Linked DNA regions of Homo sapiens: region 2 is linked to region 1. A link means that fine-mapping ties the variant in region 1 to the expression of a gene that starts in the linked region. Tissue or cell type: whole blood. Region 1 holds a variant in brackets; the other region holds the start of a gene. All regions are shown on one strand. Distances are from middle to middle.

The links. PIP is the estimated chance that this variant, and not a neighbour inherited with it, causes the effect.
Region 2: OLFML2B starts here. The variant in region 1 is fine-mapped to the expression of OLFML2B in whole blood (TOPMed, PIP above 0.99). The same link has a PIP of 0.9 or more in blood mononuclear cells.

Annotation. Positions count from the first base shown.
Region 1 is chr1:161,997,992-162,000,898 of GRCh38, reverse strand. OLFML2B (olfactomedin like 2B) reads left to right here. Exons shown (of 8, transcript NM_015441.3): 5 at 561-786; 6 at 2,550-2,907. Among named protein-coding and RNA genes, the nearest start is that of OLFML2B, 24 kb to the left of the region's middle. The variant C/T (reference allele first, on the strand shown) is at 1,367.
Region 2 is chr1:162,022,350-162,025,256 of GRCh38, reverse strand. It overlaps OLFML2B (olfactomedin like 2B), which reads left to right and starts at 1,388. Exons shown (of 8, transcript NM_015441.3): 1 at 1,388-2,000. The coding sequence starts at 1,827. RefSeq lists silencers at 764-1,058, 1,127-1,276.

The DNA.
Region 1 (2,907 bases):
TTTGGGGGCTGGGGGTGATATGTGTTTTAGGAAGCCCATTTTGATTGCTGTAACAAGCTTCATCCTGAGGCGGTGTGCATCCTGGTCCTTGGGCTTCATGTCCCAGCCCAGGCATCCTTCCCCTCACATGGATCTCACCCAAAACAACTTACACCAGATCTAAGTCACCCAGCATCCCTAGGCCAGATCCAAGAGGAGGACTGCATTCTCTGGGCAGTATACGTCAAGCATAGCGACACTGATTCTGGAACCAGACATCCTGGCTTCAATCTGCCTTACCACTTACCTGTTGTGGGACCTTGGGAAATTTATGTAACCTCTCTGTGCCTCAGTTTCCTGAACTGTAAATGATCATGATAAAAATATGTCCTACCTCATAGAACTGATGAGAAGATTAAATTAGTTAACATATGTAAATGTATAAAGCACTTAGAACAGTGCCTGGCTCTTCGGAAGTGCTGCTGTTATTAGCACAGCCTTGGCTCCAGCCTTGCCCCCACCTGCCCACTGCCTCTCTGACCAGTGACCTGACCTTCCCTTGTGTCCCCTCTGAGGAGCAGTATGAAGAGCGGTTTCTGCAGGAAGAAACCGTGTCCCAGCAGATCAACTCCATCGAACTTCTGCAGACGCGACCCCTGGCTCTGCCTGAGGTGGTGAAGTCACAGCGGCCCCTGCAGAGGCAGGTCCACCTGAGAGGCCGGCCGGCCTCCCAGCCCACTGTCATCCGGGGCATCACCTACTATAAAGCCAAGGTCTCTGAAGAAGAGAATGACATTGAAGAGCAGCGTGAGTTGGGGTCAACAGGGCCGCCCCAGAGGCAGGGTAGGGAGGAAGTCACCATTTGGACCATAGTGGGCTGGATTCCTGGGAGCCATACACCCCTCCATACACAGCATTCCAATTACTGCTGTGGCCCTGTTATCCAGAGCTCTCACTGCATTTCCTCACAGCTCGCTGAGTGGCCTTGGGCAAGTCACTTAACTTCTCTGAGCTTGCAGAAGACCATATGGCAGAGTGTGGCTGGGCTGGAAGGGACTTCAGTGCCCTCCAGTACAGTCCTCCCCATTTGCAGATGAGAAAACTGAGGTTTGGGGAGACTGACTTGCTTAGAGCCACAAGGTGGGCTTCTCCAATACTTGCTCCTCCCTCCGGGGGCCCTGAGCTTCCTGTCTGAGTCTCCAGCACCTCCCCTTTGATCTCTGTCCTTCTTCATTTTTCATGGAAGAGAGACGATCCCTTTTCACATCACGTTTACCTTGTTTCCTTAGGCTTCTTCCTCTTCCTGTGCTCCTCCTCGCCTCCTCCTCCTCCTCTTGTCTTCTTTCTTTTCCTTGCCCAGCACTCCCAGCAGGCCCCGACTCTTCCC[C/T]TCTCCCCAGTATGTCTGAGCGAGTCCTTCCCCATCAGGGCTGATGCAGCAGCTTCCTGTCTGTCTCCTTGCTTCTGCCTTTGCCTCCACCATGTTTATTCTCCACCCAGTAGCTGGCGTCATCATTTTGCCCATGTGTTTTTTTTGGTCATTTTTTTTGTGTCATTGATTTGTGGTAGTTTTTTACATATTCTGGATACAAGTTCTTTGCCATCATATGTATTGCAAGTATTTTCTCCCTACCTATGGCATGCATTTTTAGTTCCTTAATGGTGTTTTTGATGAGCACATGAAGTCTACTTTACCAATTATTTCTTTTGTGGTTAGAGCTCTTTGTGTCCTCTCTAAGAAATGTTTGCCTCTCCATATTCCATCTCTGCTCAAAATCCTGCAGCCTCCCCCATTTCTTTCAGAATAAAAACTGAACTCCATACACAGCCTCTAAGTCATGCATGCCCAGCGCCTGTCCTCACTGTGACCTTGCCTCTGCTTCAGTCATGCTGGCCACCTCGCTGCTCCTGGGCCGCTGCACGCATGTCCTGCCTCAGGGCCTTTTCTCTGTGGTTATTCACCCATGGAATCTTTGTGCCCGATGGCTGCTCAGCTGACTCCTTCACCTCCTCCAGGCAGCTGCTCATCTCCCCAGCTCAATGAGTCTCATCCTCACCACTTTATTCTTCTCTGCAAGTTTCCCTTCCCTTCTAGCTTGTTTGACCCTCTTTACCCTACATTTTGTTCCCCATAGCACCTTCAGGTGCACAATCCTGTCTATTATCAAGCGTCTCCACCACTATATAGAAGCTCTGTGAGGTCAAGGATCCTTGTTTTGCTTGCTGTTGTTATCCATACTCCATAAACATGTGCTGGAAGGATGGATTGGATGACTCACTTACTCCCAGCCATCGGGGTTCAGGACCCATGACTATGCGTCCTGCCAGTGACCCCTGAGTCCTGGGGGGAGCATGGCTGCAGTCTATTCAGAGAAACCCCCTGGAAATTCAATGTCCTTCCACCTGCGCTCCTGTACACCTTCTTCCAAAATCCCAGCCAGGCCCCCTCTGTAACTCAAGCCGTCGTGTTAAGGAAAGGCACCCTCTAATTCACCTGCTCATTGCCATGTGCTCTTGTCATCTGTAGGTTGTTTCTTTCCCGTGCCACAGTGAACCTTGTGTTTGTTTCACAGAAGATGAGTTTTTCAGCGGTGACAATGGAGTGGATTTGCTGATTGAAGATCAGCTCCTGAGACACAACGGCCTGATGACCAGTGTCACCCGGAGGCCTGCAGCCACCCGTCAGGGACACAGCACTGCTGTGACAAGCGACCTGAACGCTCGGACCGCACCCTGGTCCTCAGCACTGCCACAGCCCTCGACCTCAGATCCCAGCATCGCCAACCATGCCTCAGTGGGACCAACACTCCAAACAACCTCGGTGTCTCCAGATCCCACAAGGGAGTCAGTCCTGCAGCCTTCTCCTCAGGTACCAGCCACCACTGTGGCCCACACAGCCACCCAGCAACCAGCAGCCCCAGCTCCTCCGGC
Region 2 (2,907 bases), 24 kb before region 1:
GAAACCCCAACTCTAGTAAAAATACAAAAAATTAAACGGGCATGGTGGCGTGCGCCTGTAATCCCAGGTACTCTGAAGGTCGAGGCACGAGAATCACTTGAACCCAGGAGGCGGAGGTTGCAGTGAGCCAAGATCATCCCGCCACTGCACTCCAGCCTGGGTGGCAGAGCAAGACTCTGTCTCAAACAAACAATCAAATACACCACATTTTATCAATGTTTACCCCCATATAGTTTCAGAAAAGATTTGATAGCTTACACAGAGGAGGGTGTGTGCATGATGTCCCCACAAACCTAGACACCCAGAGCATTGAATTTTTGTCCATAAACTGAATTTTTTGAAGATTAAAATATACTAATAAGGGTTATTATTATACTTATGTCAACTATTACTTATATGCGCTAGTTTCCTTAGTTTATTACAACCCTTATTCCTCAGCATAAGAAGCAAGGTGTTTGAATTTCCCAAGGGTGCATAATATCCTTTGAAGGGGCCTGGCTCTGTTCAATATTCCGAGTGACAGTTGTCCAGGATGGCACAGTGCCCTTCCTTAAATTCACATATTGGTAATCTTCACTGTAGGTTTATAAAAGGTTGTCCTCAGTAATTGAGGGACATAGTAACATAATTGCACACTATTGAAAGTGGACTCCCTCTTAGAGATAATCTGGTAACAGAGACCCGGAGATTTGTCCCAAACCAGGAAGACAGGAAGAGCTGTTCCCTTTGGTAATCATTTATCAGGCAGTAGCTTTCCCCATGGGGACTCGCGGAGAGTGTCGGAGATGTACAGTCATTCCCCTAACTTTCAACGTTTACACAACTCAGGACACACTCTAGGAAGGAATTCAATGATTTTCCTCTGGGTGGAGGTATTACTAGGTTCTAAAGCCGTGGCAGGCAAGCAGCTACCAACGGCGCTAAGTTCAAAGCTGCCCGAGAACTCGCCCAGAGTTAAGTCAGGGAAAAGAAACGCCTGGGAACAAACGCGCCTTCTCCCCTGCCCCAGGTGTGCTAAAGGACGATGCCGCAGATCCCTAACTAGCTCAGCCTTGGAGCGAGCGCTGGGTGCCTGCGATGGAAAGTCGCTCTTCTCGCCAAGAATGGTCGAACCCCAAAACTTCAGGGACGCCGCTCGGAGTAACTTCTCTTCACTCACTTGCGATCAGATGAGAAGAAAGTAAAGCCCTTCCAACGTCACCCTCAGCCGGCGCGCGGCAGCTGAGTCCCAGCGGGGACGGGGTCCGCCGGGTACCCCTCCGCCCGAGCCCTGTGCGCTTCCAGGTCCTCCTCCTCCGCGCGGTCACTGGCTGCATCTCCGCCGCCCCGGCACAATAGAGGCTCCGCCCTCCTTCCGCGCGAGCTCTCCGCGGCTCCCTAGCCCAGCAGCCCTCGCCCAGCAGCCCGCGCCGCCACCGCCTCTTCCCTCCCCGTGTCCGGTCCCCGTGCGTCCCGAGGCTCCCCGCCGCCCGTCCCGGCGCGCACCGCGGGCGTCTGTCCGAACGCCTTCCAGCCACCTGAGCCCTCCTGCGGGCGACTCGCTCAGCTAGCCCGTGCCCGCCTCCACCTTCTCCGTCATCCCCTCTTCCTTGCGTCCGGCTCTCCACTGGGGCTGCACAGTCGAGGGCTGCTCGCGTCGGGAAGGAGATGCCCAGAGTCTCTGGGGCGCACCCTCCCGTCCCGCTCAGCCGCACCCAGCTTTAGAAGGTGCTCTCAGCAGCCACTTTCGGGCTCTAGCGAGGACACCCTCTCGCAGAAGTCCTTGCCGAGACCCCCCGCCCCAGCCATTCTCTGAAGGGGCTGAGGACACTCTTATCGCGCCCCTCATGGCCAAGCCTCGGCTGCTAGTTCTCTACTTCGCTCTGATTGTGGTTCCGGCCTGGGTGTCCAGCATTGTCCTCACAGGGACAAGCGAGCCCCCAGATGCGCAGACAGTGGCGCCTGCGGAGGACGAGACTCTGCAAAACGAGGCGGACAACCAGGAGAACGTTTTATCTCAGGTAGGATGCAGAGTGCCACGACCGCCCTTCTTGCCCTGGATGGTGGTGAGAGCCAGAAGCTGGTCCTTGCTGAAGTGTTTGAGGGCAGCTGTTTTTCCTTCCATTACCAATGGAAAGGGCTTTTGATTTTTCATGTATCGGAATATTTTCTTAATGGAAGGATATAGGTTCTCCTCGCAAAATCATAGGGTGCTTAAAGGTCATCAAATCAGGAGAAAGGAGAGGTGAAGGAAGGGAAGATGCCGCTCGACTTCTTGAGAAGAAAGAAAACAAAGTTGTTTTTGGTTTCAGGGTTGTAAAAAGTATCTCTTGTCTATGTGGCTGTCTGTCAGAATTGGAATGTGAAAACAGCCGGATATGTTGACCAGGAGGCAGATGGCATATCCCATCGGGAGATACTTTATGGCAGAGGGTGGGACACCAGGCGGGAGCATGGGGTGAAGTCAGAACAGAAGCATGTGTGATGAATGTGAGGTGACCCCCAAACAGAGAGACTGAGAACATGACGGAGTGTACTGGGAGGGGAGAGTGGGAATGCAGATGCAGGCAGCTAGGGCAGACTGTCAGTGGGGGCCCGAGTAACCCATGATAGTGATGGGCTTCGTAAAGTGTCCGTTTACCAAGTACTTAAACTTGTTTTTTCTGACTCAATCTTCAAAACACCCTAATACCCATTTATAGATAAAGACCATAAGAGATACATGGGTAGGCCGGGCGCGGTGGCTCACGCCTGTAATCCCAGCACTTTGGGAGGCCGAGGCGGGCAGATCACGAGGTCAGGAGTTCAAGAGCAGCCTGGCCAATATGATGAAACCCCATCTCTACTAAAAATACCAAAATTAGCCAGGCGTGGTGGCAGGCACCTGTAGTCCCAGCTACTCAGGAGGCTGAGGCAGGAGAATCGCTT